4 linked regions of the Homo sapiens genome follow. The protein of the gene in region 2 binds, or shares a complex with, the protein of the main gene of each other region. Each region holds a gene or a part of one and is shown on either strand. Other genes may lie near its edges. The genes, in order: BNIP1, STX7, STX5 and VAMP7.

Region 1 (7,512 bases), on a different chromosome or scaffold from region 2:
TAGAAAGAATGGCAGAGAAGAGAAAGTATTTGAAGTGGCCCCAGGATTTCAAAAATTCCAAGGATAATGGTGTTCCTGCCATTCACTCGTTCACACAGCTGGCAGTGTTCTGCATGCAAAAGTTTCTTGTTTTTTTTTTTGAGACAGAGTCTCGCTCTGTCGCCCAGGCTGGAGTGCAGTGGCTCGATCTCGGCTCACTGCAAGCTCCGCCTCCTGGGTTCACGCCATTCTCCTGCCTCAGCCTCCTGAGTAGCTGGGACTACAGGCACCTGCCACCATGCCCGACTAATTTTTTGTATTTTTAGTAGAGACGGGCTTCACCGTGTTAGCCAGGATGATCTCGATCTCCTGACCTCGTGATCTCCCCGCCTCGGCCTCCCAAAGTGCTGGGATTACAGGCGTGAGCCACCGTGCCCGGCCAAAAGTTTCTCGTTTTTACCTGGAGAGCAGGTTAGTACAGAGTCACCCTCCCTGTCTAAGTGTTTACTGCTCCCATCAGCTGGTGTTTGAAGAACCCAGACGGCTCTCAAGCAGAGGATATACCCAGGACAGAGCCCCCTTCATTGACTGAATTGAGAATACCCACCTGTATTCTGTGACGCAACTGTTGAAATTTCTCTTTTACTTTAGTATTCAGTTCAGTAAGAGCACTTAAGGGTCCTGAACAATCACGGATATCCTAGGAGACATTGAACAGATGAAAGGCCTTTCTCAAGGCAATGAAATGAAATGACACCATCCATACAGTGATAGAGTTGGTTTAGACCAACTAATATTAACATACTAACTATAATTCATCCTGATCTTTGCTGTTTACCTCTGCAACACAAGCAAAAACATTATCATTTACATTTTTCTCATTCCTTTTTAGATTAATGTTGAATTAATATAAAAGCCTAGAAAGAAACACAACTGCTTTGACCTAATTTTTAGTGCCTAAATTTTAACAAAACATTACCTGGCCAGTAGGAAACAGCTTAAAACAGCTTGTATGCCCAACAAGAATGGACATGCAAAAGTGATACTATCACTTTAGAACCTTAGATCCTTCCAACTTGGAAGATCAGGATGTTTAAATATCTGGCATCATATGATGAGATTAACTTCTCCAGTGTGATTTTACAAACCATTAGTGATAAGTTAGAGTGTTTATATAGACATGTTTAAGGGCAGATTTAGAATCTGTTGCTGGACATTCAGAATTACTGGTGCCAGCTTTCACGGCAGGCTCTGGAGACAGACCAGGTGGATTCGAATCCTGGCTGTAGCAACTTATGAGCTGTGTAAAGTTACCTGGAAAGTTATTTAAATTCTCTGTGTCTGAGTTTCCTTATCACAACACTACTTACCTCATAGAACATCATAGATTATGTATGTATGTAAAGCACTTAGCAGAGCTGCTGGAAAACGGTAAGAACGCAATACATCCAGCTATAATCAGTCTTTCTCATCAGCAATGACAAGAACCCAAATGTTAGAAAGAGTACAGAAGAATGCCTAAGCAATTTAGATTATGTGAAAATGTAATTTCATTTGTATGAAACCTGTTTATTTTTCTATAATTGGCCCAGAAGTTTTGTAATGTATACATCAGAGAAGTGAAGTTCAAGAAGTTTTAAATATCTGCATCAAATTTCACTTTTTCTCTGGCTTATTCATTTAATCACACTTCTTTGCACCGTATTTGTTTATTCTGCATCTAATTTGGTTTATTCTGCATCTGGTTTATCTGGGGAGCCCTATTTTCCTGCACTTTTTGCCACACCTTGTTACAAACTCTGAGTCTACATCTAATGTTTAGTGACTTTGTTGAAAATGATTATTTTTAAAAACCAAGGTTTAGGCCGGGCGCGGTGGCTCACGCCTGTAATCCCAGCAATTTGGGAGGCCGAGGCGGGCGGATCACGAGGTCAGGAGATCGAGACCATCCTGGCTAACACGGTGAAACCCCGTCTCTACTAAGCAAAACACAAAAATTAGCCGGGCGTGGTGGCGGGTGCCTGTAGTCCCAGCTACTCAGGAGGCTGAGGCAGGAGAATGGCGGGAACCCGGGAGGCGGAGCTTGCCGCGAGTCGAGATCGCGCCACTGCACTCCAGCCTGGGCGACAGAGCGAGACTCCGTCTCAAAAAAACAAAAACAAACAAGCAAAAACAAGGTTTAAAACTCGGTTTCTTTTTGCTGAACTCATGGAACCGTGTCTACACTCCCAATTCTTGCCTAAGTCCACTCGTTTATTTTACCTCTACCCTTAAATGGCTTAAGGCGAAACACTTCATTTCCTATCTGTTCAAACGGGGTAACACTCTAAGGTGTTATTCCTAGGTTGACTTTCACAGTCCAGGTCCCAGTTTTGCCACTGACCCAGGTATGCCTTCTAACCTAGGCCTTGGCGCCGTACTCGATTTCCTCAAGCATAAAATCACAACTACGGTCCAGGTTACATTCGTTTCACCCGGTGCCTCCCGTGCCAGGTGGCCTTGGATGCCAGGAGAGCTGGCCAGCAGGGGGCGGGGCTAGCTGCCTCCCGGACGCTACCAGAGGATGCTGAAGCAGCGTCAGAGGGCGGGGCCAAGCAGGGTGACAGGTAGGTTGTGAGGTAGTCAGGGGCGGGGCGACGACCAGGGCTGCAGGTGGAAGGGGCAAAGCCGAGCCCCGAAGCAGTAGCTGAGTCAGGGGCGGAGAACAGTGGGGTGCTCTGGGGATGGGAGATCCGGCGGCACCCGGAAAAAGGATCAAGGCCAGCAGTCACCGGGACACAACCAAATGGGGACCGGGGGGGTAGCCGACCATGGGGCGGAGCCTGTGGTCTGGGAAACCAAGTGGGGAAAGTTCGGGAGTGACACTGCCAAGCTCACAGACCAGCAGAGCTTGGGTTAGGGCTGCTGGAGCCCGGCAGGGGTCCCGGGATCAGTACCTGAATAAGCGCCTTCACCTCCAGGTCAAATTTGACAATCTCTTGGTTACAGATCCGGACGTGGACGTCTTGGGGAGCCGCCATGTTGGGGACGCCGGCTACGGGCAGCGGCAGGACCCAAGTTCAAACGCGTTTTCGCACCACCTTCTTTCCCTCCCCACCCAGTCTCGGGGCAGCGCCCCCTAGAGACCGGCGAAAATGGCAAGCGAGGGTCACTGCGCAGAGTTGGGACTTTCCCTGACACGTGTAGGGAAATCAGCCTCTCCTCTTGGTATGGCCCTAATAACATGGAGAGGAAGGGAAGAGGGAATATCAAGAACGCTTCACAGTGGTCTCTTTCCATCTTCCTTCTGTCAGGCATTCTAATAACTATATATTTTTTACATAGAAAAAAAAAGACTGGAAGAAAAGTATCAATTGAGATGTCTCTGGAAAGTACCAGTAATAATTTTTTGTTTCTTCAAACTTTCTTATATTTTTAATATTTTCTACAGTGAGTATAAATTGTGGAGTAAAAGAGGAAATGATAAACGTCATATATTTTTTAAAGTATGGAGTTCAAGGCAGGTCGGTAGAGTACCTCCTATCACTCCAACACATGATCTAAGGGATCTTTGTAAAACACGAAATTGATCAAGTCACCTACCTGTATGCAGCCCTTCTATGGCTTCTCGTGTTTCCCTTTTGTATACAACTGGATTTATTAAATCTACCTTGCTAAGGTAGTTTTGATGGAAATGTCAGAGCAAACCCTCAACAAATGGTGGCTCTTTTATTTTTGTTAGTAAATAATCCAAGTTTCTTAGCTGGTCCTCAAGGCCATCAGCCACCCCGGCCATCAGCCACCGCACCCTGCGCCCTTCCTGGATTGCTCAAGCTCCTTCTGGATGTGTAGCCTTAGAATGTGGTGTTCCCTCTCCCTAGAAAGCGTTTCCCCCACTCGACCCCACTCCATCTGCATTTGTTCGGGTCACTTCAGCAAGCATAGATTGTGAGGACCTAAAGGCTTAGGACTTGAATGTTCATCTCTCTCTCTTTTTTTTTTTTTTTTTTTGTGGCGGAGTCTCGCTCTGTTGCCCAGGCTGGAGTGCAATGGCACAATCTTGGCTCACTGCAAACTCTACCTCCCAGGTTCAAGCAATTCTCCTGCCTCAGCCTCCTGAGTAGCTGGGATTACAGGTGCGTGCCACCATGCCCAGCTAATTTTTGTATTTTTCATAGACACGGGGTTCACCATATTGGTCAGGTTGGTCTCGAACTGACCTCGTGATCCACCCGCCTCGGCCTCCCAAAGTGCTGGGATTACAGGCGTGAGCCACTGTGCCCGACCATGTTCATCTCTCTTAATCCTCACAACCACCCTTGAAATTGTACTACACTATTATCACAGATCAGGAGTAGGGCTTAGAGTAAATTAAAACAAAAAACAATCAACCCTGTTGCAAGATTACCTATCTTGAAAGTGGCAAAGCCTAGGCCGGGCACGGTGGCTCATGCCTGTAATCCCAGCACTTTGGGAGGCCGAGGCGGGTGGATCACGAGGTCAAGAGATCGAGATCATCCTGGCTAACACGGTGAAACCCCGTCTCTACTAAAAATATAAAAATTAGCCGGGCGTGGTGGCGGACGCCTGTAGTCCCCGCTACTTGGGAGGCTGAGGCAGGAGAATGATGTGAACCCAGGAGGTGGAGCTTGCAGTGAGCCGAGATCGCCCCACTGTACTACTCCAGCCTGGGCGACAGAGCAAGACTCCATCTCAAAAAAAAAAAAAAAAAAAGAAAAAAGAAAGAAAGAAAGTGGCACAGCCTCTACTGAAAGCCATCTTTTCCCCAAAAAATCAATATGGTCCCCACCTGTTGTAAGCGGGGCTATGTGCTTGTCTGTGTCCCTACAGCCCTCTACACACCCTCTCGTAAGGTATTCATCACCCCACTGCACCTAATAGAGAGGCAGTGTATCACAGGCTTGGCATCTGCCTGGGCTCAAATCCTGTCCACCACACACTTCGCATGCCTGTGCCTCTGTCTCCTCGGAAGCTAACTGGTGATAATCAATTGCGCCTACTTCACAGGTTGGAGAATTAAATGAGAAAATACATGAAAAGCACCAAGCACAGTGTGCTAATGTGGCATATAGTAAGATCTCAATGCCCGTTAGCTGCTGTTATTCTACTACTAGCCCACATTTTGGGAGCACTTCCTATGTGCCAGGAACTTTGTACTAAGCGCTTCATGTGTGTCTCGCTTAACTCTTACAACAACTCTGTGAGGTAAAAACGGGGCAGAGAGGAATAATGACTTGCCCAGAGCAAATGGAGTTGCTAGGTCAAAGGATATATGCATTTAAAAATTCTGACATATTACCAAATTGCTCTTCATAGGGATTATGTCAATCCATACTCCCTCCAGCAACATGGCATAAATGCCTGTTTCCCGTGGCCTTGTCAACAGGATAGGTTAACAAACATTGGAAGTTTTGCCAATCTGATTAGGTAGAAATGCCTTCTTTAGTTTATGCTTTTCTGATCATGAAGGAGGCTGAGAAACTCTACCTATGCTTCAGAGCTATTTGCATTTATTCTATTGTCTGCTCATTGTTCTATTGGGTTGTTGGTTTTTTTCATATCCGTTTCCAGGAACTCTATATATTAGGAGGATTAGTCCTTAGAGATGAGTTTCAAAGCTTTTCTATTTTCATTTTTTTTTAAAGACATCTACAGCCTTAAAAAGTCTATAGAACTTTGATTTAGCTTATGGTTTTTGTTAATCTTGTTTTACATTGAATTTATCAATCTTCGTTTATGATTCCTGGATTCGTGGTCCAAATTACAGGGATTTAAAGGGATTGCCCACATTTCCTTGTAGTGTTTTTATGGGTGGTTTTTTGTAGCTTTTTTTTTTTTTTACACTTAGATCATTATCTATTTTGAAATATATGTTGGCTTATGGTGTGAGATATAGACCCAATTTTACTTTTTCCGGAGGTTACTTAGTTATTCCAATACTATTTAATGAAGAGTCTACCTTTTGCTCACTGGTTCTGGATGCCACATTTGCCATACTAAATTGTCGTATATGTTTGAGTCTACTTTTAGACCTTCTATTCTGCTTGACTGGCCTATTCATGTATCAAAATTAGTTTTAACTATTATGGTTTTATAACGACTTTTAGTATCTGCTAGGATTAAATAACTCTTCCCCTTGTCCCCTGCATCACTGCCCCCTCAGCCCCACTGCCTACCAGCATCTTCCAGCTATTTTATCCCTGTGTAAACTTTTTTTTTAAACCCTCTTGGTATGTTTTCTTAGGATGACATTTTTTAGCAATATTATATTTTTAATTTAACTTACCACTGTTAGTTCTATGTCACTGCTCCTGTGTAAGAACTTGGTGTATCTTTCAATTTATTCCAGTTTCCTTCTGTGTCCTTCACAGTACTTTCAAAGTTTTCTTTATCCTAGGCCTTGTATACATTTTCTGTTAAGTTTATTCCTGGTAATATTTTCAGGTTAAAACCTTTTAAAGAAACTGAGGTTTACTTTCTTCAGGTCACTCCAGTGTTTTGGATACTCACATAGAAGCCCCCTGTTTAGGACAGCAGAGAAGCCCCAAAGCCAGCAGCTGGCAGACCTGCAGACGTGCCCTTGGGACCCCGTTCACATCATGCTTCTTGTTGAATATTCATATGCAATCAACAGTCCCCAGTTGCATCTCTTATGCTGCAGCTAAAGAAGAAAACATAAGCTCCCTTTTTCTCTACCCTCCAATATACTTCCTTCCAATAAGGGGACCCAATCCTAAACCTTAAGCTAGAGGCCATCTTCGAGGAACAGATGTGCAGTCTGGTGATCATTACACGCAATCACTGATTCCTCTCAACTCTGTTTTGCTTCCCCTATCACCTTTACCCACTGATCCTTAGACTAGCTTTTGTTTATCTGCTAGGTTTTGGCTTTCTTTTTGGTTTTTAGATTCTAAGGCCTTTATCCCCCGCTACAGAGACATCCTTCCAAATATTGCCTGTGACTTGACCTGATCCCAAAGAGATGAATACAAATTATTTCTGTAGTGCAGCAAGCCGACTGGAGTTGAATTGGAGCTCTATAATCATATAAGGTAGGTCTGGGGCTAGTCTCCTCATCTGAGTCTTGTCTCCTGTAAAATGAACATGACCACCAGCCTCATTGGGCGCTTGAGAGTAGCAGCTGAGTTTCCTGTAACAAAAAAGCACCTAGCAGAGTCTTAAGGAATGCCACTCCCTCCCCTAGGGCTTTCTAACACCTTCTTCCTGCTCTGAACCTTTTAGCTGGGATATTATAGCATTTCCCAGCCATTTTCTTTCTTTCAAATTCTCCACTGTACTGTGGCTAAACAGCTCACCAGCTGAATGACCCAGCTAACTGGATGCTATCCACAGGTTTAGTTTCCTAAGGACTATACTGGTCTGGCTCACCCAGCCCTTTAACAGTCTCAAGATCTTGACAGAGGATCCTGTGAGCAGTGGTCTTTAGAGATCAAGTCCTGATGCAGAACCAGTCCATGGGAGGCCATGCCCCTCCCCTTTGCTTCCTGATGGCCTTAATGTCACTCACATGAA
Region 2 (7,023 bases):
CTAAGATACATTGGTTAAAAAGATACTAATAAGTTTTTGTGCGTGTAACATTTGACACCAGGCTTTTAAGTAAAACACCCTAAGATGGAACTTACTGTGTAGTGGAAAGAGTTAGACTCACTAGACATTGATTAGCTGACTGACATAGAGCGTTTCTTATCAGTCAACAAAACTATTTCCAGAGAGGCTTGAAATAAAACAGTTGACTTTATGTAGATTATGGTTAATATCTTTTGCAGATTTTCTAAGAAATCTTTCCCTATCAGAGGTCCCCAAAACATTCCTTTATCATTTTCCTTCTAAATCTTTTATACATGCTTAAGAAATATGCACATGCTCTAAATTGGGGGAACATGATCCTTTATGTATTAATTGAATCAACTTTGGTTACCATGTTGTTCTATTTACTTTTTTGCTGCTCGAGCTAAAAATTGAGTGACTTCAAATACAACATAATAGTTTTTTTTTCCGTTTTGCCCTCTACATTTTTACTTTAATAACTTTGTTTAGAACTGTTATACCTACTTCAGTTGAAATTTTTATTATTTTTGAGAGTCTCCTTATCCTTATTAATGCTTTTCACTTTAATATTTGTAAGGCTAATACTGATACAGCTATCCTAACCAGGTATATTTGCTTGTTTTATTTTCCCTAATTCTACTTTTTGTCTTTCTCTGTCCTTGTACTGTCTTTTGTAAACTGTATATATTGAACAAGGTAGACTTTTTTTTTTATTAATCTGGTGAGATAGGCAATTTATATTTATTGTAACCATTTATTATATACTATGCCATTTCTTTGCTTTTTCTATGCTTTTTCTTCCTTCTTGCATTTTTGTGGTCTATCAAAGTTGGGATTTCTAAAGTGTTTTTCCCTTATTTCAGAATGTTTCCTCTCTACTGGTTTGAAAGTTATATTGTATTGCTATTCTTTAAAGGTTATCTGAAAATTTTCTGTTAAGTACTTAGATTAACAACATCTAAAGTCATTCATTATCTTAACTTCCATCCTAAAGAGTATCAGGATCTTGGAGCACTCACACTAACTTCTAAGTGCTCCCGGACACTTTCCCCACATATACATTTCCTGAGTTATGTAAAATGTTGCTAGTATTTTAATTACGCTCTTTTTTACTCCACAGAGTAAATACTTCTTAATATAGACAGTATTTATTTACATTTCCCATGATTACTGATTTTTTAGCTCACCATACCTTCTTGCATCTCAGACTTTCCTCCTAGTCATTTTGCTGTACTCTAAAATTCATCTTTATTCTTAAGTGAAAGTCCCTTGTTTGTAAATTCTCATTTTGAGAAAAAAGTGTTTTTAATATACCCTTGATTTTGAAAGATAATTTCACTGGGCACTCATTCTATTGAGTTATTCTCTCAGTACCTTAATGATGTTATTCCACTGTCTTTTGCCTTCCAGTTTTGGCACTGAAAAGTCTACTGTTGGCCAGGTGCAGTGGCTCATGCCTCTAATCCCAGCATTTTGGGAGGCCAAGGCAGGTAGATCACCTGAAGTCAGGAGTTCGAGAACAGCCTGGCCAACATGGCAAAATCACGTCTTTACTAAAAATACAAAAAAATTAGCCAGGTTGTGGTGGCGCACACCTGTACTCCCAGCTACTCGGGAGGCTGAGGCAGGAGAATCAATTGAACCCGGGAAATGGAGGTTGCAGTGAGCAGAAATCACACCACTGCACTCCATCATGGGTGACAGAGCAAGACTCTGTCTCAAAAAAAAAAAAAAAAAAAAAAGGTCTGTCAATTCGTTATTCCTTTAAAAGTGGATAAGTTATTCTGGCTGCTTTTAAGATATCTTTGCCTTTATTGTTCTGAAGTTTGAGTATAATGAATATACATTGGCTTCCTTTTCCTGGTTGATATACATTTTGCTTCTTGTATATGTGGATCCACTTTTTTTTTTTTTAGACAGGGTACAGTGGCACCATCATAGCTCACTGCAGCCTTGAACTCCTGGGCTCGTGTGATCCTCCCTCCTCAGCCTCTTGAGTAGCTGGGACCACAGGTGTGTGCCACCATGCCTGGCTAATTTTTGTATTTTTTGTACAGATGGAGTTTCACCATGTTGCTCAGGCTGGTCTTAAACTCTTGGGCTCAAGTGATCCTCCCACTTGAGCCTCCCAAGTAGCTGGGACTACTGGTTCATGTCACCACATCTGGCTAATTCTTAATTTTTTTTGTAGAGATGGAGTGGGGGCTCTTGCTTCATTTCCCAGGTTGATCTCAAACTCCTGGCTTCAAGTGATCCTTCTGCTTTGGCCTCCCAAAATGCTGTGATTACAGGCATAAGCCACCATACCAGGTCCCAGGCTTTTCTTAGCTCTGGAAATTTGTCAGCAATTACCTCAATTTTTTTCTATTTTTTACTTCTTAGACTCCAATCAGCACATATTAAACCTTCCCATTCTATCCTTCAGGTCTCATAATCTCTAATTCTTATTTTCTATCCCTTTACCTGTTTTTGCTGCAATATGTTGTTTCCTCAGTTAAAACTTGATAGTCAACAATTCCTTTAGTTGTGGTGAATCTGCTCTTAAACCATTCATTATGTTATATATTTCAATAATTAAATTTCATACCTAAGTTGTCTTTGGTTCTTTTTAATATCTGCCTTTTAACACATCTCTCATTTCATGTTCGTTTTAATTCATACATTATTTAAACATATAACTGTTATTCTACTTCTGCTAATTGCAATACCTGAATTCCTTGAATATCTAAATCTACTGTTTCTCAATGCAAATGGTGTGTTTCCTTGCATGTTTGATTAATCTAGAAGCATTAATTAGGGAGGCTTTCCTTCGGAGGGGATTTTCATCCACTTCTTAGAGTAACCACCAGAGTCCACTGACTTAGGACTACTTTAATGCTTTAAAGCATTCCTGGTTTTATGAAGGAATCTTAGGTTCACTTTCTTTACTTTGCCTGGAGTCCATGGCTTAAGTCTCAGAGGCACAGTTTTCCTGTTTCTCAACTACTTTAATTTTAGCCCACTCTCATTGGTAATAGCCTTTAGTGATTATCTTTCTTTCTAATGAGCCAGGAAATGAACTAATATTATGTGTGTTGTATTTTATCCAAGAACTAACTGTATTTTAGCAGGAGGATCCTTGAGTATACCTAGTCAACCATATGGCAGGAAGCAGAAATCATCTACTTCGTAGTTGATTTTGGTAATTTGCATTTTTCATATAAATTATTCATTTTCTGTTTTGTGATATATTGGCATAAAGTTGTTTATAGTGTCTTATTATTTTAAAATCTATGTTTGGTTATTTATCTGTACTTTCATTCCTAAATTTTTTATGTCTTCTGTTTTTTTCCAAATCGGTTTCACCAAGTTATGTGTACTTTATTTATTTAAAGAGACCAACTTTTGTTTAAATTGATCCTCTCAAAAAAAAAAAAATTGATACTCTCTTCTATAGTATAGGTTTATACTCCAGGGGTCAACCAACATTTTCGGTAAAGGGCCAGAAATTTTAAAATTGAAAAATGCAGGAATCAATATGAAACACTTAATTGATAGGCTCAATAGCAGAATGGAAGCTACTGCAGAAAGAATGAATAAATCTGAAGATAAAATGATAGAAATTACACAGTCTGAACAACAGAAGAAAACAGGCAGAACAAAGATGAACAGAACCTCAGGGACTTACGGAACTACAATAAATCTAACATTTGTGTCATCAGAGTCTCAAAAGAAAGAAGAAAGAAGGAAGACTGAAAAAGTTCTTGAAAAAAATGACAGCTGAAAACTCCCCAAAATTGGCAAAAGACATAAACATATAGATGGTGAGAAGACCTCAAATATAATAAACCCCCCAAATCTACAAGATACATCATGGTTAAACAACTAAAAACTAAACACAAAGGAAAAAAAGAAAAAGAAAAAAGACAAATGACACCTATCTATAGGGACCAAAACAATTTAAAAAACTGGATTTCTCATGGGGAACCATGAAATTTTCTTTCCTTTTTTTTTTTTTTGACAAGGAGTCTCGTTCTGTTGCTCAGACTGGAGTACAGTGGTGCGATCTCAGCTCACTGTAATCTCCGCCTACGGGTTCAAGTGATTCTCCTGCCTCAGCTTCCCAAATGGCTGGGATTACAGATGTGCACCACCATGCCGGCTAATTTTTGTATTTTTAGTAGAGGCGGGGTTTCGCCATGTTAGCCAGGCTGGTCTCAAACTCCTGACCTCAAGTGATCTGCCCGCCTTGGCTTCCCAAAGTGCTGGGCTTACAGGCGTGAGCCACCCCTCTTGGCTGGAAGTGGCAGAACAATTTTCAAGTGCTGAAAGAAAAGAACTATAAACCTACAAGTCTATGTCTAATGTAAATATTCTTCAGATATCAAGGGAAAATCAAGACATTTTCAGATGAAAGAAAACTGAGAGAATTTGTTGCCAATGGAACTACAATAATAATAATAAGGCTAAAGGAGTGCTCTAAACAGAAAGGAAATGATAAATGAAGGAGTTTTGGAATATCAGACATCAAAAGTCTAACAAAAAATACAACCAAAAACTCTACATATAAATCTGAGAGCTTAGATGAAATGGACTAATTCATCTAAAAATACAAACTGTCACAACTCAATATGAAATAGATAAATTAAACAGCCATATAACTATTGTAAAAGTGGAAATTACAATAAAAAGAACTCCCTCCCCCAAAATCTCCAGGCCCAGATGATTTCATTGGAAAGTTCTATCAAATGTTTTAAAAAGCGCTGACACCAATTCTATACAATCCGCTTTAGAAAACAGAAGAGAAAGGAATACTTTCCAGTTCATTTTGAAGCTAGTATTACCCTGATACCACCAACCAGTATGTCGCATTAAAACAGATGCAAAAATCCTTAACAAAATATTAGCCAAAAGAATTAAGCTATATATACAAAGATACACCACGACCAAGTGGAGTTTATCTCAGGGATGTAACAATGGCTCAACATTCAAAAATCAATCAATGTATCTACCACATGAATGGGCTAAAGAAGAAAAATGGCATTATGTAAATTAAGGCAGAAAAAGCATTTGACAAAATTCAACATAAAATTCATAATAAAAACTTGCAGAAAAAAAGGAATAAAAGATAACTTCCTTAACTTTAGCAAGAGCATCTACTTTAAAAACCTACAGCTAACATTATACTTCATGGTGAAACACTGAATCCTTTCTGCCTAAGACCAGAAACAAGCCAAGGATCTCTACTCTCACTGCTTTTATTTCTGCTGGAATTTCTACCCACTGCATTAAGGGACTGAAAGGAAAAAAAAAAGGAATATAGGTCAGAAATGAAGAGATAAAACTATTCATTATTTGCAGATGACATGACTATCTATATAAAAAAAAAATCCCAAGGAATCAATCAAAATCCCCTAAAATGAGTAAGTGGGCTCAATAAGGTCTCAGTATACAAAATAGAAAAATTCACTTTATTTCTATGTACTTAGAATAGACATGTGAACAGGAAATTCAAAATACAATGCCATTTACAATCTCTCTCAAAAATTAAATTGCTTAGGTATAAATCTAACAAAACATGTACAGACCTTGTATGCTGAAAACCACACAATACTGATGAAGGAAAACAAAATTTAACTGAAATGAAGTGAAGTGATCCTGTGATCATGATCGGGAAGGCTTAACATGGTAAAGATGTCAAATCTCCCCAAATTGATGTATAGGTATAACATAGTTCCTGTCAAAATCCCAGTAAGATATTTGAATAGATACAGACAAGATTATTCCAAAGTTTATACGGGAAGACAAAGGAACTAAGTGGCTAAAACAATTTTGAAAAAGAAAGTGGAATAAACCAGCCTATTTGATTTCAAGACTTACTACAGTAATCAAGATTTTGGTGTTGGTGGAGGTATAGACACATAGTCTAATGGAAAAGAATAGAAAACCCAGATATAGACCCACACGAATGTGCCCAACTGATTTCTCATTAACTCATTTTTGCTCAACTGATTTTTGACAGAGGTGCAAAAACAATTCAATGGACAAAAAAGAGCCTTTTCGACAAATATCATGTTGGAGTAATTGAATATCCATAGGCAACAACAAAAAAAATGAACCCAGACCTAAGTCTCACATTTTATACAAAATTAACTGAAAATGGAATATAGACTTAAAAGTAAAACGTAAACTATAATACTTTTAGAAAACAACATAAAAGAGAAAATTTGGGGGATCTAAGGAGAGAGGCAAAGTTCTTGATACCAGAAGCATGATCCATAAAAAGAAAAATGGATAGAGTGGACTTCATCAAAATTAAACACTTCTGCTCTGTGAAAGGCCCAGAAAAGAGAAATGAAAAGACATGCTACTGACTGGGAGGAAATATTTGCAAATCACACATCCAACAAAGGACTAGTATCTAGAAAAAAATACACACACACACACACAGAGGCACACACACACATTATTTAAAAGCCCTCAAAACTCAACAGAAAAAAAATCCAATTAGAAAAGACATGAAGAAACATGTCACTAAAGAAGAGATACAGGTGGCAAATAAGCATATGAAACAAAGATGCTCAACATCATTGCCATTAGCGAAGGGAAAATGGTAAATCAAAACTGCAATGAGCTGTCACTATACACTTATCAGAATGACTAAAATAAAAAAGAGACACCACCAAATGCTGAAAAGGACATGAAGCAACTAGATCACTCATACACCACTGGTGGGTATATAAAATAGTACAGCTACTTGGTATAAGTTTGGCAATTTCTTAAAAACTAAACATTCAACTACTATATGACCCAACTACTATATAACTGCTGGGCATTTGACCCAGAAAACTAGATTATGTTCACACAAAAACTTGTACACAAATGTTTATAGCAACTTTATTTATAGTAGCCAAAAACTGGCCCAATGTCTCTCAGCAGGTGAACAGTTAAACAAACTGTGGTACATCTATACTATGGGATTCTATTCACACTAAAAAGTACCTGTCAATAGACTTGATACAC
Region 3 (7,664 bases), on a different chromosome or scaffold from region 2:
AGAGAGACTGTCTCAAAAACAAACAAACAAACAAACAAACAAACAAACACAAACTGCTTACTCGGGTCCCACTGGGATTGTTGAAAAAAACACTCCCGGCTGGGTACGGTGGCTCACGCTTGCAATCCCAGCACTTTGGAAGGCTGAGGCGGGCAGAGCACCTGAGGTCGGGAGTTTGAGACCAGCCTGACCAATATGGAGAAACCCCGTCTCCACTCAAAATACAAAATTAGCCAGGCATGGTGGCGCATGTCTGTAATCCCAGCTACTTGGGAGGCTGAGGCAGGAGAATCACTGGAACCCGGGAGGCGGAGGTTGCAGTGAGCTAAGATCGTGCCACTGCACTACAGCCTGGGCAACAAGAGCGAAATTCCCATCTCAAAAATAAATAAATAAATAAATAAATAAATAGCACTCCCAAATTTTTTTTAAGAGGAGCTGAGTGCAGTGGCTGACACCTGTAATCCCAGCACTTTGAGAAGATAAAGCAGACGGATCACTTGAGCCCAGAAGTTCGAGACCAGCCTGGGCAACATGGTAAAACCCCATCTCTACTAACAAAACAGAAATTAGCCAGATGTGGTGGCACATGCCTATAATCCCAGCTACTGAGGAGCCTGAGGCAGGAGGGTTGCTTGAGCCCAGGAGGTCAGATGTTGCAGTGAGATGAGATAGAACCATTGTACTCCAGCCTTGGTGACAGAGTGAGACCATGTTTCCAAAAAAGGAGAGAGAGAGGCCAGGTGTGGTGACTCATACCTGTAATCCCAGCACTTTGGGAGGCTGAGGAGGGCAGATCACCTCAGGTCAGGAGTTCAAAGCCAGCCTGACATGGTGAAACCCCATCTCTACTAAAAAAAAATACAAAAATTAGCCGGGCGTGGTGACGGGCACCTGTAATCCCAGCTACTCGAGAGGCTAAGGCAGGAGAATCGCTTGAACCCAGGAAGAGGAGGTTGCAGTGAGCCGAGATTGCACCATTGCACCCCAGTCTGGGCGACAAGGCAAAATTCCTTCTCAAAAAAAAAAAAAAAAAAAAAAGAGAGAGAGGAAGAGACTGGGCCTCGCTCAGCCTTCTAAGTAGCTGGGACTACAGGCACATGCCACCACGTCCAGCTTTTTTTTTTTTTTTTCCTGTAGAAACAGGGTCTTGCTTTGTTGCTCCTGCTGGTCTCTAACTCCTGGCCTCAAGTCATCCTCTGGCCTAGGCCTCCCAAAGTGCTGGAATTACAGGTATGAGCCACCACATCCAACCCTAAGTGATTTTGATACAAATTACTGATCTAGGGCCAGGTGTGGTGTCCAGACCAACCTGGGCAACATAGTGAGACACTGCCTGTACGAAAAAATTTTAAAATTAGCTGAGTGGTGCATCCATGTAGTCCCAGCTGCTCAGGAGGCTGAGGAAAGAGGATCCCTTGAGTCTAGGAGTTCAAGACTGCAAGTGAGCTATCATCACACCACTACACTCCAGCCTGTTGACAGAGTTGAAAAACAGATCTCAAAACAAAACAAAAACAACAAATTACTTATCTAGAAAATGTCCTTAATCTTACAGAGATAAAAACTAATATGTAACTAGATTAACTAATTTTCTCATGGTTACAGAGCAAACTTATGGTAGAAGTATATTGGAAAATTCAAGGTGCATGTTTCTCAGCTAAAGGCTCTTCCTAGAACTTGTTCCTTATTCACACCAATTATATTGCAGCCAAGTACTCTCTGAAGTACTCCCTCCAGAATAGCAATCCTGCCCTCCAAAGGATTCCTCACAAAAAAAAGTCTAAGTCCTTGCCCCTAGTTAGCCAGCCGACCTCTTCTCTGTTGCTTATAGCAGACCCTACAGGCCCCATCCAAGCCTATCAGTTCCATCAGGTACCCCCCAAAATTACTTCGGTTAACAGTGGTGGAGCACAGTCCTTCCTAGATTTGAGTAAGGCTCACTCCTCGCCTTTTCCACTCCAGGTCCTTACCTGACGGGTCTGCAGCGACTTGCAGGCAGACAGAAACTCCTGGGTCCGATCCCGGCAGGACATGGTGTCGGGAGGGGGAGGGACGAGGGTCACTGGGGGGGGCAGAGGGGCGATGTCGCTGCTGCTACTGCCAGCAGTTGCAGGGGACAGGACCTGTGTCTTTGAGAGACCCAGGTAGACACCCTGATCCGTGTTCTTAGACCCGTAGCGTTTCCGCGGGATCATTGAGACGCATAACCTCGGACTGTTGTGGAGGGGAGAGTGTCATTCCCCAGGCAACTTCTTTACCCAAACTCCCCCGCCCCACCCCAATCAACAAATCCCCGAGCCCCTTCTGCACTTCTCGTGGACTTTCGCGCCCAGGACGCTCGCAAATCCTGGGGCGGACCAGCAGCGGAAAGGGCCCCGCTTTTCCCCTGTCCCAAGTCGAACCCGCTTCAGACTCTTCTTCCAACTTGGCTCTGGCGGCCAGAGCGCGGGCCGGGGACCCTGAAGCAGAGACAGGGCCAGAGCCAACCCCGTGGTCCTGAGACTCCGGCCCGGCCCGTGTAACTGCCCCGGGCCCTAACCCAGCCCTTTCGTTTCCGCGGTTTCCTTCGGCCCCTCCGGGAGGGCCAGTGACGGACCTCCAAAGACTGACACACTTCGGTGGGCGGAGGGGGAAAACCTCTGGGTGTTTATTTGAAACAGGAAGTCCCACCCCCCGCCCAAGGTCCGCCTTCTGGAAGACTTCAACCACTCATTAGCTAAGGCCGACGTCTCTCTCAACAGAGGCTTTCCTGATTGGACGGCAAGGAATTCGCTCACCCGGAGCCGGGCCGGCAGGACTTGCCCGCTCGCCCCTGATTCCCTTCCCCCCGCCAGTCGTCGCCCCCGTAAAACCACTGCCCCAGAGCTGACACGGCGGCCAGATCCCCTCTTAAAGCGAATCTTACCTCCCCTCTGCCGCCTGCCGCCGCCGCCACTTCCAATCTCACCGGCCGTCACTGCCTCCTCCCCGAGCACTGAAGCCGCCGAAACCCGACCAAAGACTGGAAGCGGCCACGTCACCTACACGTAACCCCACCCCCAGTGACGAGGGGGCGGTCCCACGCGTTTCAAGCCCAGCGACCCGAAAGACACGCCCCACACCCAAACGCAAGAGCGATCCCGCCCTCCCATTGGCTAAGGCGCCACCGTGACCCCGCCCCAGAGTACTACAGCAGGCGCTCAGGGGGCTGGGCCCGCCTCCGGGAAGGAGCCTTAAAGAACCAGCTGCCCGGTGGTGTCCGCGCCCAGTCCCCCAGAGTGGTCGTGCAGGTATACGTTAGAAATTTTATTCTCTGGAGGTTGGGGCGGACTGAGAGCAGGTCTGGGGTCATCCCTTCTCCGGCTCCTCCTGGTTGCCTTCTCGGATCGGACTCTCCTGCTTCCGAATCTGGTCTGGTTGCCTCTTGCTTGGCCGCGAGGAGCCCCGACGACCGAACGTGGATAGTCGCCGCCACAGCACGGTAATCAGAAGGCTTTCGTTCGACTTGTGATTCGGATGGTCCGGGGAGTTCAAGTCGATATCTTCGGCGCCTGAGGGGACGACGAGGCCTCTGAGCTCACCCCTACCCTCGGGAAGCCCCCTCTCACACTCCCTGGGCCCTCTTTGTGTGTCTGTGGTCTCATCTTCCCTGCCGTCCTCAGACTCTTCCTCCTTGGACTGCTCATCAGACATCTCAAAGTCCTTGTCTTGGCAGCAGCCCATGGCCCCGCGTGGCCCTGGACTCCGTGCCACCCACGCCAGCCTGCCTGCCTCCAGGCCCGGCTTTTGTGACATCAGATATCCCGTCGCCCCAGCTCAGGCAGCCCCCACCCCAAGCTACCCCTCATTCCTTTCTCCCATCACAAAAGGCTCAGGGTCATGGTGGGTGTTCAGCAGTTTATTTACAAAGTGGGCACAGGGGCGTCAGGGGCTGGTGGACCCAGGCCGCTTCTTCTTTCTCCGTCTCGTTTGGAGAGCTCCTTGGGGCTGCTCCAAACCCGAGAGCTTCCGCTTGGCAGCTGCCTCCAAGGATGCCCAAAGTTCATCTGTCTCTGTGTCTTCTAGGGGCACCTTGTTGGGTTCTTGAGGCTCTTGGGGCTCATCCTGGTGAGTGGGAAGAAAGCTTAGGAGTCAGGGGGGCCGGGCACGGTGGCTCCCACCTGTAATCTCAGCACTTTGGGAGACCAAGGCAGGAGGATTGCTTGAGCCCAGGACTTAGCGACCAGACTGGGCAACATAAGGAGACCCCATCTCCACAAAAAGAAGTTTAAAAAAAAAAAAAAAAAAAAAAAAAAAGAAAAGTAGTCAGGGGCACAGGGACAAACCCACAGGGAAGGAGACCCTGGCTGAGAAAGAATCCCTCTGGGTACCACCACCTTTATTCCCTGCTCCTAGAAAGCAACCCCATCCATGCTGTTGGCAATAACCCTCTCAGGATTTTAACTGTTAATGCCTCTCAGAGAAATTAAGTGACCAGGCAGGTAAACAGATAGTCCCAAGTCTGCATTCCAGCTGCCTCCTTTTCCTCTCCATAGGGAGGTCCTCACATCTATGCCCTTGGCTCCCACATTCCCGGGCCCAACTGCTCACCTCCCAGTTGTCCCTGCCTGACAAGAGGAGGCAGTTCAATTGAGACTTGAGATAAACCTGCAAAAGATGAGGGACCTTAAGGAGCCAGGCATGCTGAGACAGAAACATGAACGGAGGGCACAGGAGGCGGGGCCTCCACAAGACCATGAGTTGGAGGTGGGAGAGACAACTTACCTTATGCTCCAGACCCCGTGGATTCTGGATCCTGTGTATCCTCAAGACTCTGTCCAAGCCACAGGAGGCTAGTAGAGGCTTTGAAGGGTGGCACTGCAACCCACGCACACTGCCTGCCAGCCCCTTCAGACAGCCCAGTAGACGCCCTAGAGAAGGGGGGAAGCATCCGTGATAACTGGCTGGCCAATAACCAACCATTCATTGTTTCCTGTTCCAATCACTTTCCATTTCAACATTTAATCTGCAACAAAACCCTGAGACTGGAGCTTCTACTAATATTTCCATTTCGCAGGTGAGGAAACTAAGGCACAGGGAGTTGAAATAATTAGTTTAAGGTCATACAGCTTTTAGGGAAACCAGGATTTAAACCCAGGCAATCTGGCACCTGAATGAGGCCTCACTGGCCCCACTGCACCACCTTAGAGGGAATCCTGACCCTTCTCCCTGCTCCTTCCTTTCCCCCAATGTACCCTAGTCCACTCACCTTGCCGAAGGTCAATTTCTGCCAGCTGCCCATGAGTGTTTCCCACAATCACTGAGCTGAGGATGAGACCAGAGGCAAGTGGGATCAGCAGTAACCTCCTGGAGCCCTTCTCAAGCCCCACCCTCCCACCCCTTCCCCTCTAAACACTCACTTGCCTCCCGGAGTGAGGGTCATGGCTGTTAGTGGGTACTCTCCATAGGTGGTCTCTAGGACTGGCCGGCGCTGGGGGGATGCTGGATCATAAACACGGACCTAGAGGAAGGCTGAAGCATCACAAAAGTATCCTCACCCTGCACCTACCCTCTGGCGTCTCTGCATCCTCACCCCCTCCCTGCACACTGCTTTCTTATTTATGATCCACTCCCAGAAACTTTCTCATCTTAGATGTATGCCTCTTCTCTGAGCATCAGGGTGTCAGGAGAGCTGCTTAGCAGCATAAATGGACAGAGCTGAGGGGAGAGGTCCCCTAGGTTGGAAGTGTGTGAGCATTCCATCCCCCCATACTCCCATCTAGGGGAAATGGAGGGACAGAAAAGCAAGTTGGTCTAGTAGTCAGTAGGTGCTAAATTTCAAGCAGGGGTTAGCCTGAATGAAGGAGGAAAGAGGATGCCCTCATATGTGTTTTGAGCAGAGGCATATGACCAAGATCAGACTTCAATGTGCAGAAGCAAAGAAAATAGGACAAATACAGTGACCCAGCCCCGCCCGTGTCTCAAGACCTCAAATGAGACAAACCATAAAGATTCCCCATTCGGGCCCTTCCTGTAAAGCTGAGGAGCTGAGGCCAGAGATGGGAGGCTCAGGCCTGGGTCCCAAAGCAAATCAGAGAGGCTGCATCAGGACCAGAACCCAGTTCTCTTAACACCCAGCCCAATGTCCTCTGACACCTGCACCCTATAATTCCCACAGTGAAGGGGATCCACTCTCCTTTCCTCTCTTCCAGGTGGGAGGAAAACAGGCATAGTTCAGGAAACTCCACCCTAGAATACAGTAGAGGAAGGTCATGGGCTCAGGGACAGGGTTGGAACAGACGGGGAAGCGCTTGCTCCTCTGAACTCAGAATGGTGAGAAGAGCAGTTGTGTCAAACCGTGGGGGCCATTTCTCCAGGAGGCTGCTTTATCCCAGGAGAAGGCAGGTGTGAGGTGACACCTTACCTGGTGGTACCCTGTGCAGGTGACAAGCTTCTGTGATCCTGGGAGAAACTGTATGTCCTGGTCCCAGATGGGAACCCGCAAGTCCAGCCAGTCATTCCGCACCTGGTGGGGTGGGCAGATGGAGGACAGGGCTATGGGGGGCTCGATGTGCCCCTGTTTTCAGCCCTCCTTCGCCCCCTAAGTCCATCTAGTCTCTAATGCATCGTCAGTGGCCTCAGCCTCCCTCGACTTCAGGAACAGCTCCTTCACACTCTTGTCACTCACGTTCTTGGCCCTGAACACAGGTTCCTCAGAGCCCTGCAGGTCCCATATCTTCAAAGCATTCTCTTTCCCACCTGTGGCAACCACATGGGGGTGTGCTGGGTCTTGGCGCATCCTACACACCCCAGGGCCCACTCTCAGTTCCAGGAGCTGTAAAGAATAGGAGATAAGAGTCCGTTCCAGAGTCCTTAATCCTCCCTTCCCCAGCGTGATCATTAGGCACCTACCCCAGCCCACCTCCCCCAACCATCAGGGCAGGGGAGCCTCACTGGGTCAGAGGATGTGTCCTTGTCCTTGTCATGCCAGACTCTGAGAATCCCAGAATCCACACATGTGATGAGGGTGCTGCAGAGAAAGGATAGAGTTGGGATTTTTTAAGTGCTTAAACTCCTTGTTCTAATCTTTCTCTCCTCCTTACTACTACAGTTGACTAATGTTTAAAGAAAAAAAAAAGTATAAAAGTATTCTCTAGGCCCCAAACTCATATCAACCAGATTCCCTACTAACAGTCCAGTTTAGAAGGAAGCCTCTAGGTCACTGGGCTCTAGGCAGGGCTTGACAGCTTCCAGCTTCCTAATCTGTTAATTCAACTTTCTCAACAGGGTGAGGGTTTACCAAGTGAGGAAATAGAAGCGCTGAGAAACTAATTTGCCACTCAGCTATGTTACAACCACAGCTAGAAATCAACTCTGTGATATTCCAGAGTGCTTTTGCTGTTCACAGCTATGTCTAGCATCTGGCTGTACTGGTCTGTCTGAATCTTGAGTTGCTTACTAGGGCTGGTCTGAATTTAGGGCTTGGTCAAAGTCAAACACCAACTTCTTGGGTTCCTTGCTCTGAGTTTCAGGCACTAAATGTCAGTCTCTTGCTTAAAATATCCCTCCCGAGAAGTCCAAGCAAGTCTCTCCCCAGGATCTGCACAGCCTGCGCCTATGTTCTTTCTCACACCTGCCAACCCTCCCTAGCTGGGTTCGGGCTCTGTATCGACTTGCCTGACCTGTGGCAAAAGTCTCCCAGT
Region 4 (7,023 bases), on a different chromosome or scaffold from region 2:
GGTTGGTAAGCTATTAATTATTGCCTCAATTTCAGAGCCTGTTATTGGTCTATTCAGAGATTCAACTTCTTCCTGGTTTAGTCTTGGGAGGGTGTATGTGTCAAGGAATTTATCCATTTCTTCTAGATTTTCTAGTTTATTTGTGTAGAGGTGTTTGTAGTATTCTCTGATGGTAGTTTGTATTTCTGTGGGATCGGTGGTGATATCCCCTTTTATCATTTTTTATTGCGTCTATTTGATTCTTCTCTCTTTTCTTCTTTATTAGTCTTGCTAGCAGTCTATCAATTTTGTTGATCTTTTCAAAAAACCAGCTCCTGGATTCATTGATTTCTTGAAGGGTTTTTTGTGTCTCTATCTCGTTCAGTTCTGCTCTGAGTTATTTCTTGCCTTCTGCTAGCTTTTGAATGTGTTTGCTCTTGTTCCTCTAGTTCTTTTAATTGTGATGTTAGGGTGTCAATTTTATATCTTTCCTGCTTCCTTTTGTGGGCATTTAGTGCTATAAATTTCCCTCTACACACTGCTTTAAATGTGTCCCAGAGATTCTGGTATGTTGTGTCTTTGTTCTCATTGGTTTCAAAGAACATGTTTATTTCTGCATTCATTTCGTTATGTACCCAGTAGTCATTCAGGAGCAGGTTGTTCAGTCTCCATGTAGCTGAGCAGTTTTGAGTGAGTTTCTTAATCTTGAGTTCTAATTTGATTTCACTGTGGTCTGAGAGACAGTTTGTTATAATTTCTGTTCTTTTACATTTGCTGAGGAGTGCTTTACTTCCAACTATGTGGTCAATTTTGGAATAAGTGCGATGTGGTGCTGAGAAGAATGTATATTCTGTTGATTTGGGGTGGAGAGTTCTGTAGATGTCTGTTAGGTCCGCTTGGTGCAGAGCTGAGTTCAATTCCTGGATATCCTTGTTAACTTTCTGTCTCATTGATCTGTCTAATGTTGACAGTGGGGTGTTAAAGTCTCCCTTTATTATTGTATGGGAGTCTAAGTCTCTTTGTAGGTCTCTAAGGACTTGCTTTATGAATCTGGGTCCTCCTGTATTGGGTGCATAAATATTTAGGATAGTTAGCTCTTCTTGTTGAATTGATCCCTTTACCATTATGTAATGGCCTTCTTTGTCTCTTTTGATCCTTGCTAGTTTAAAGTCTGTTTTATCAGAGACTAGGATTGCAACCCCTGCCTTTTTTTGTTTTCCATTTGCTTGGTAGATCTTCCTGCATCCCTTTATTTTGAGCCTATGTGTGTCTCTGCACATGAGATGGATTTCCTGAATACAGCACACTGATGGGTCTTTACTCTTTATCTAATTTGCCAGTCTGTGTCTTTTAATTGGAGCATTTAGCCCATTTACATTTAAGGTTGATACTGTTATGTGTGAATTTGATCCTGTCATTATGATGCTAGCTGGTTATTTTGCTCGTTAGTTGATGCAGTTTCTTCCTAGCCTTGATGGTCTTTACAATTTGGCATGTTTTTCCAGTGGCTGGTATGTGTTGTTCCTTTCCATGTTTAGTGCTTCCTTCAGGAGCTCTTGTAAGGCAGGCCTGGTGGTGACAAAATCTCTCAGCATTTGCTTGTCTGTAAAGGATTTTATTTTTCCTTCACCTATGAAGCTTAGTTTGGCTGGATATGAAATTCTGGGTTGAAAATTCTTTTCTTTAAGAATTTTGGATATTGGCCCCCACTCTCTTCTGGCTTGTAGAGTTTCTGCCGAGAGATCAGCTGTTAGTCTGATGGGCTTCCCTTTGTGGGTAACCCGACCTTTCTCTCTGGCTGCCCTTAACATTTTTTCCTTCATTTCAACTTTGGTGATCTGACAATTATGTGTCTCGGAGTTGCTCTTCTCGAGGAGTATCTTTGTGGCGTTCTCTGTATTTCCTGAATTTGAATGTTGGCCTGCCTTGCTAGGTTGGGGAAGTTCTCCTGGCTAATATCCTGCAGAGTGTTTTCCAACTTGGTTCCATTCTCCCCATCACTTTCAGGTACACCAATCAGACGTAGATTTGGTCTTTTCACATAGTCCCATATTTCTTGGAGGCTTTTTTCGTTTCTTTTTATTCTTTTTTCTCTAAACTTCTCTTCTCGCTTCATTTCATTCATTTGGTCTTCAATCACGGATACCCTTTCTTCCAGTTGTTCGAATCGGCTACTGAAGTTTGTGCATTCGTCACTTAGTTCTCGTGCCATGGTTTTCAGCTCCATCAGGTCATTTAAGGACTTGTCTACATTGGTTATTCTAGTTAGCCATTCATCTAATCTTTTTTTCAAGGTTTTTAGCTTCTTTGTGCTGGGTTCAAACTTCCTCCTTTAGCTCAGAGAAGTTTGATCATCTGAAGCCTTCTTTTCTCAACTCGTCAAAGTCATTCTCTGTCTACCTTTGTTCTGTTGCTGGTGAGGAGCTGCGTTCCTTTGGAGGAGGAGAGGCGCTCTGATTTTTAGAATTTTCAGTTTTTCTGCTGTTTTTTTCCCTATCTTTGTGGTTTTATCTACCTTTGGTCTTTGATGATGGTGACATACAGATGGGGTTTTTGTGTGGATGTCCTTTCTGTTTGTTAGTTTTCCTTCTAACAGTCAGGACCCTCAGCTGCAGGTCTGTTGGAGTTTGTCGGAGGGCCACTCCAGACCCTGTTTGCCTGGGTATCAGCAGCGGAGGCTGCAGAACAGTGAATATTGCTGAACACCAAATGTTGCTCTCTGATCGTTCCTCTGGAGGTTTTGTCTCAGAGGGGTACCCGCCGTGTGAGGTGTCAGTCTGCCTCTACTGGGGGGTACCTCCCAGTTAGGCTGCTTGGGGGTCAGGGACCCACTTGAGGAGGCAGTCTGTCTGTTCTCAGATCTCAAACTCTGTCCTGGGAGAACCACTACTCTCTTCAAAGCTGTCAGACAGGGACATTTAAGTTTGCAGAGGTTTCTGCTGCCTTTTGTTCAGCTATGCCCTGCCCCCAGAGGTGGAGTCTACAGAGGCAGGCAGGCCTCCTTGAGCTGTGGTGGGCTCCACCCAGTTCGAGCTTCCCGGCAGCTTTGTTTACCTACTCAAGCCTCAGCAATGGCGGGCGCCTCTCCTCCAGCCTCGCTGCCACCTTGCAGTTCAATCTCAGACTGCTGTGCTAGCAATGAGTGAGGCTCCGTGGGTGTGGGACCCTCTGAGCCAGGCGCGGGATATAATCTCCTGGTGTGCTGTTTGCTAAGACCGTTGGAAAAGCGCAGTATTAGGGTGGGAGTGATCCGATTTTCCAGGTGCCATCTGTCACAGCTTCCCTTGGCTAGGAAAGGGAATTCCCTGACCCCTTGTGCTTCCCGGGTGAGGCGATGTCTCGCCCTGCTTCGGCTCACGCTCGGTGGGCTGCACCCACTGTCCAACAAGCCCCAGTGAGATGAAGCCGGTATCTCAGTTGGAAATGCAGAAATCATCCGTCTTGTGCGTTGCTCACGCTGGGGGCTGTAGACTGGAGCTGTTCCTATTTGGCCATCTTGGAACAGGAATCAAAGGAAATTTTTTAAAAATCCCATTTATGATAGCATCAAAAAGAGTACAATAGTTAGGAATAAATTTAACCAAGGATGTAATAATGTGCACACTGAAAATTATAAAACATTGATGAAAGAAATTCAAGAAGACACAAATCAATGGAAAGATACCTTATGTTTATGGATTGGAAGAATCAATATTATTAAAATGTTCATACTGCCTGAAGCAATACACAGATTCAACACAATCCCTATTGAAATTCCAATGGCATTTTTCACAGAATAGAAAAAAAAATTCTAAAATGTGGATGAAACTAGAAGACATTATATTAAGTGAAATATACTAGACACAGATAGATAAATACTGTATGATTTCACTTATATATGGAATCTAAAAAAAATGTTCAGTTCATAAAAGCAGAGAGTAAAACAGTGGTTGACAGTGGGTGGGAGACCTGGAGAGATGTTGGTCAAAGTGTATGAACTTACAGTTGTAAGATGAATAAGTTCTGGATACCGGACATACAGCATGGCAACTATAGTTAATAATAATGTATTGAATATTTGAAATATGCTATAAGAATAGATCTTAAGCATTCTCACCACATACCCAAAAAAGTAACTATGTGAGGTGATGGATATTTTACTTAGCTTGATTGTGGTAATAATTTCACAATGTGTACATTTATCAGAATATCACATTGTATACCTTGAATATATACCATTTTTATTTGCCAATTATACTTCAAGGCAGAAAAAAATAAAATTAGAGTAGAAACAAAAGCTTGGAGGTCTGAAATGTTACTAAAAGTGTAACATTTTCCTTTTTTCAATATTCTTGCCACATGGTGGGTAGGTCCTTTTAGTCTGAAGATTCAAGTCTGTCTTATTTGGGGGATATTTTCTTCAATTAGTCCCTTGATTATTGATCCTTCTCTTTTGGCTGTATTCTCTCCTGTGACTGCTAATAGGTGTGTAAATCAGTACCAGGCACATAATAAGCACATGTTAAATATCTGTTGATCGTATAAATTGATCCTGGATTTGCTTGATCAGTTTTCCGTGTATCTTACATCTTCTTTCATGATTTACAACCTAGACATTTTGCTGTTTTCAGAACAAATTTTTTGAATTGTTACTGCAGAAGCTGCTTTTGCTCATTTATGTTCTGCTTTTAAAAAATTATGCCATTTTATTAAAATATAGTTTTTGGAATGTTGTCATGTTATCTAATTTTTTATGTCCTCTGATGACTTTGTTTAAAATTAGTTCAATTATGTCTTGTATCTGAGGATACTTATTAGAAATTTTTTTATTACTGTTATTCTATCTTGTTTCCCATATTAACTTTGTTCCATTAAGGACTGTTTGTCCCCATTGCTTTTTTTGTCTCCTCACTTTAACTGCTGTTTCTTCTCAAAAGTTCTAGTCAATGCATATATTCTATTCAACATATATATTTAGCTCTAGATGTAATCAGTTTTGGTATGTGCCTCCAGGTGGCATCCTGTGCAGTCTTCATGAAGTGAAACCCAAAGACTGGTGCCCCTGTCAGTTGTTCTACTGCAGAGACTTTGTGGAGTATGTGGTTGGAGATGAATCTATGGTTAAGGGAGTGGATTTTTTAAAACCAATATGTGAAGTATAATATACATAAAGTGCATCAACTGTAAGCATACAACTTGTTGTGTTTTCACAAAGTAAACATACCATGTAGAACCAACACCCAGATTAAGAACTAGAGCACGAACAGTACCCCAGAAGCTCCCTTCTCCCTTCTTTTAGTCACTACTCTTCTCCAAAGGTGGCCACTGTCCTGATTTCTCCACATAGATTAATAAAACATAGCAGGGGCCGAGAGTGGTGGCACACACCTATAGTCCCAGCTACTCAGGAGGCTGAGGTGGGAGGATCGTTTGAGCCCAGGAGGTCAAAGCTGCAGTGAGTCGTAATTGTGCCACTGCACTCCAGCTTGGGCGACAGAGCAAGACCCTGTCTCAAGATAAATAATAAAATATAGCAGGTATTCTGTTTATGTCAAGTTTCTATTGCTCAAAATGATGTTTGTGAGATTCATCTGTGGTAAATTGTATAAATGTAGTAGTAGATTGTGAATTGTCATTACTGTATTGTATTCCATGTTATGACTCTCCTGTAATTTATGCATTGCACAGTTGATGGGCATTTGGGTGGTTTCCAGTTTAAGGTATGAAAAGTAGTGCTGTCCAAAACATTTTTTTATATGTCTTTTGGTGAATTTGCATACATCTGTGGGACCATACCAGAGTGGATTGCTGGATTATTAGGGAGTTTTGTTGGTTGGTTGTTTGCCATTTTGTTTTAAACTCCTTGTGTCCTGGTGGGAATTGTTCAGTAGATACTGAGAAATTGATGATGCAAAAGAAAATGGATAGCAGAAGGAATGAAGTTCTATGGGTTTTGGCCCTCACAAAAGTAAATACATATCTTCCTACAGAAATCAAACAGGTTTTTATGGCTCAAAGCCCCGGAATTATACGGGGCAGAATAGGCGAATGTGCTTGCAGTCAGCTGGCTTTAAAAGAGCCTTTCTTATTGGAAGTATAGAGAGGAAAATTCTTTTCCACTAGCGGGAAGAACCACTTCTGGTGCTCAACATCATGTGCATTGCTGCAGTGGAGAAGAAAAAAGAGGGAAGCGTTTTCATTGGGCTCATACTGCTTATGATAGGCCTGGCAGAGTCTTGCTTTTGGCAACTATTGAGTATGAATGGCCAGTCTCTACTTGTAAAGAGAGGTCATTGGACTTAAATGGAATTAATGGAAGTAAAATGTTCTCAGGTTGTTACTGCAAATCATTCATGTAGTCAGTGCCAGGGGTTAAACAATTCTCGCCTCTTTTCTAGTCTGTCACCTTCAAAACTACCAGCAGAAATCTTGCTCGAGCCATGTGTATGAAGAACCTCAAGCTCACTATTATCATCATCATCGTATCAATTGTAAGTTTTTGTCCTTTTAGTGTATGGCTTTATTTTTCAATCTCTAAGAAATTAGGTACTAGAATTATTTCTCAATGATTAACACTCTGAAATGAGCTACATATGTCTTTTAATAGTGAAACACATGACCAGGCAGTGGCTTTCCTATGAAGTCACTATGAAATATCTCTACTTAAACCCCTCCTTCCTATTGAGAATTATTATATATTCTCAATAGGAAGAGATCTATAAAACTGACCTCACAGAAATGTAGTTATTTTAAATAAAGACATTTCTGGTTTATATGTAATGGGTTTATTGTTTTTATTTTTAAATTAATTATGTATTTTTAAAGTTTTAATTTCTAATATGGCAAATGCTGATAATTATAATCCCCCTTAAACAAGAACTCTTTGGAGTCCTCAGTAATTTTTGAGTGTGTAAAGAGGTCCTAAACCACAACTTTAAAAACTATTGCTAACAGGTGGGGGGTGCTTTACCCTGTTCATGGTCAGATAAAGTTGCCTTTCCTCCCCATCCTCCAGTCATGTCCAGAAGCCCAAAGTTACCTCCAAGCAGATAACTCTGACCCTGC

What was found.
Region 1: STX7 (region 2) and BNIP1 share a complex: the UniProt entries of both Homo sapiens proteins name them as parts of the SNARE complex.
Region 3: STX7 (region 2) and STX5 share a complex: the UniProt entries of both Homo sapiens proteins name them as parts of the SNARE complex.
Region 4: STX7 (region 2) and VAMP7 share a complex: the UniProt entries of both Homo sapiens proteins name them as parts of the SNARE complex.

Annotation. Positions count from the first base shown.
Region 1 is NC_000005.10:173,140,033-173,147,544, reverse strand, and holds the start of BNIP1 (vesicle transport protein SEC20), read right to left. Parts: upstream 3,015-7,512; 5' UTR 3,000-3,014; coding exon 2,916-2,999; intron 680-2,915; coding exon 587-679; intron 1-586. UniProt on the Homo sapiens protein: As part of a SNARE complex may be involved in endoplasmic reticulum membranes fusion and be required for the maintenance of endoplasmic reticulum organization. Also plays a role in apoptosis.
Region 2 is NC_000006.12:132,447,097-132,454,119, forward strand, and holds part of STX7 (syntaxin-7), read right to left. Parts: 3' UTR 1-7,023. UniProt on the Homo sapiens protein: May be involved in protein trafficking from the plasma membrane to the early endosome (EE) as well as in homotypic fusion of endocytic organelles. Mediates the endocytic trafficking from early endosomes to late endosomes and lysosomes.
Region 3 is NC_000011.10:62,829,046-62,836,709, forward strand, and holds the start of STX5 (syntaxin-5), read right to left. Parts: upstream 3,007-7,664; 5' UTR 2,909-3,006; intron 2,611-2,908; exon of another isoform or gene 2,406-2,610; intron 2,218-2,405; 5' UTR 2,199-2,217; coding exon 1,974-2,198; intron 1-1,973. Other genes in the region: TEX54 (testis-expressed protein 54), read right to left, coding at 3,331-3,705; WDR74 (WD repeat-containing protein 74), read right to left, coding at 3,907-4,086, 4,573-4,629, 4,747-4,892, 5,231-5,286, 5,382-5,482, 6,386-6,487, 6,650-6,796, 6,874-6,991. UniProt on the Homo sapiens protein: Mediates endoplasmic reticulum to Golgi transport.
Region 4 is NC_000023.11:155,933,345-155,940,367, forward strand, and holds part of VAMP7 (vesicle-associated membrane protein 7), read left to right. Parts: intron 1-6,356; coding exon 6,357-6,449; intron 6,450-7,023. UniProt on the Homo sapiens protein: Involved in the targeting and/or fusion of transport vesicles to their target membrane during transport of proteins from the early endosome to the lysosome. Required for heterotypic fusion of late endosomes with lysosomes and homotypic lysosomal fusion.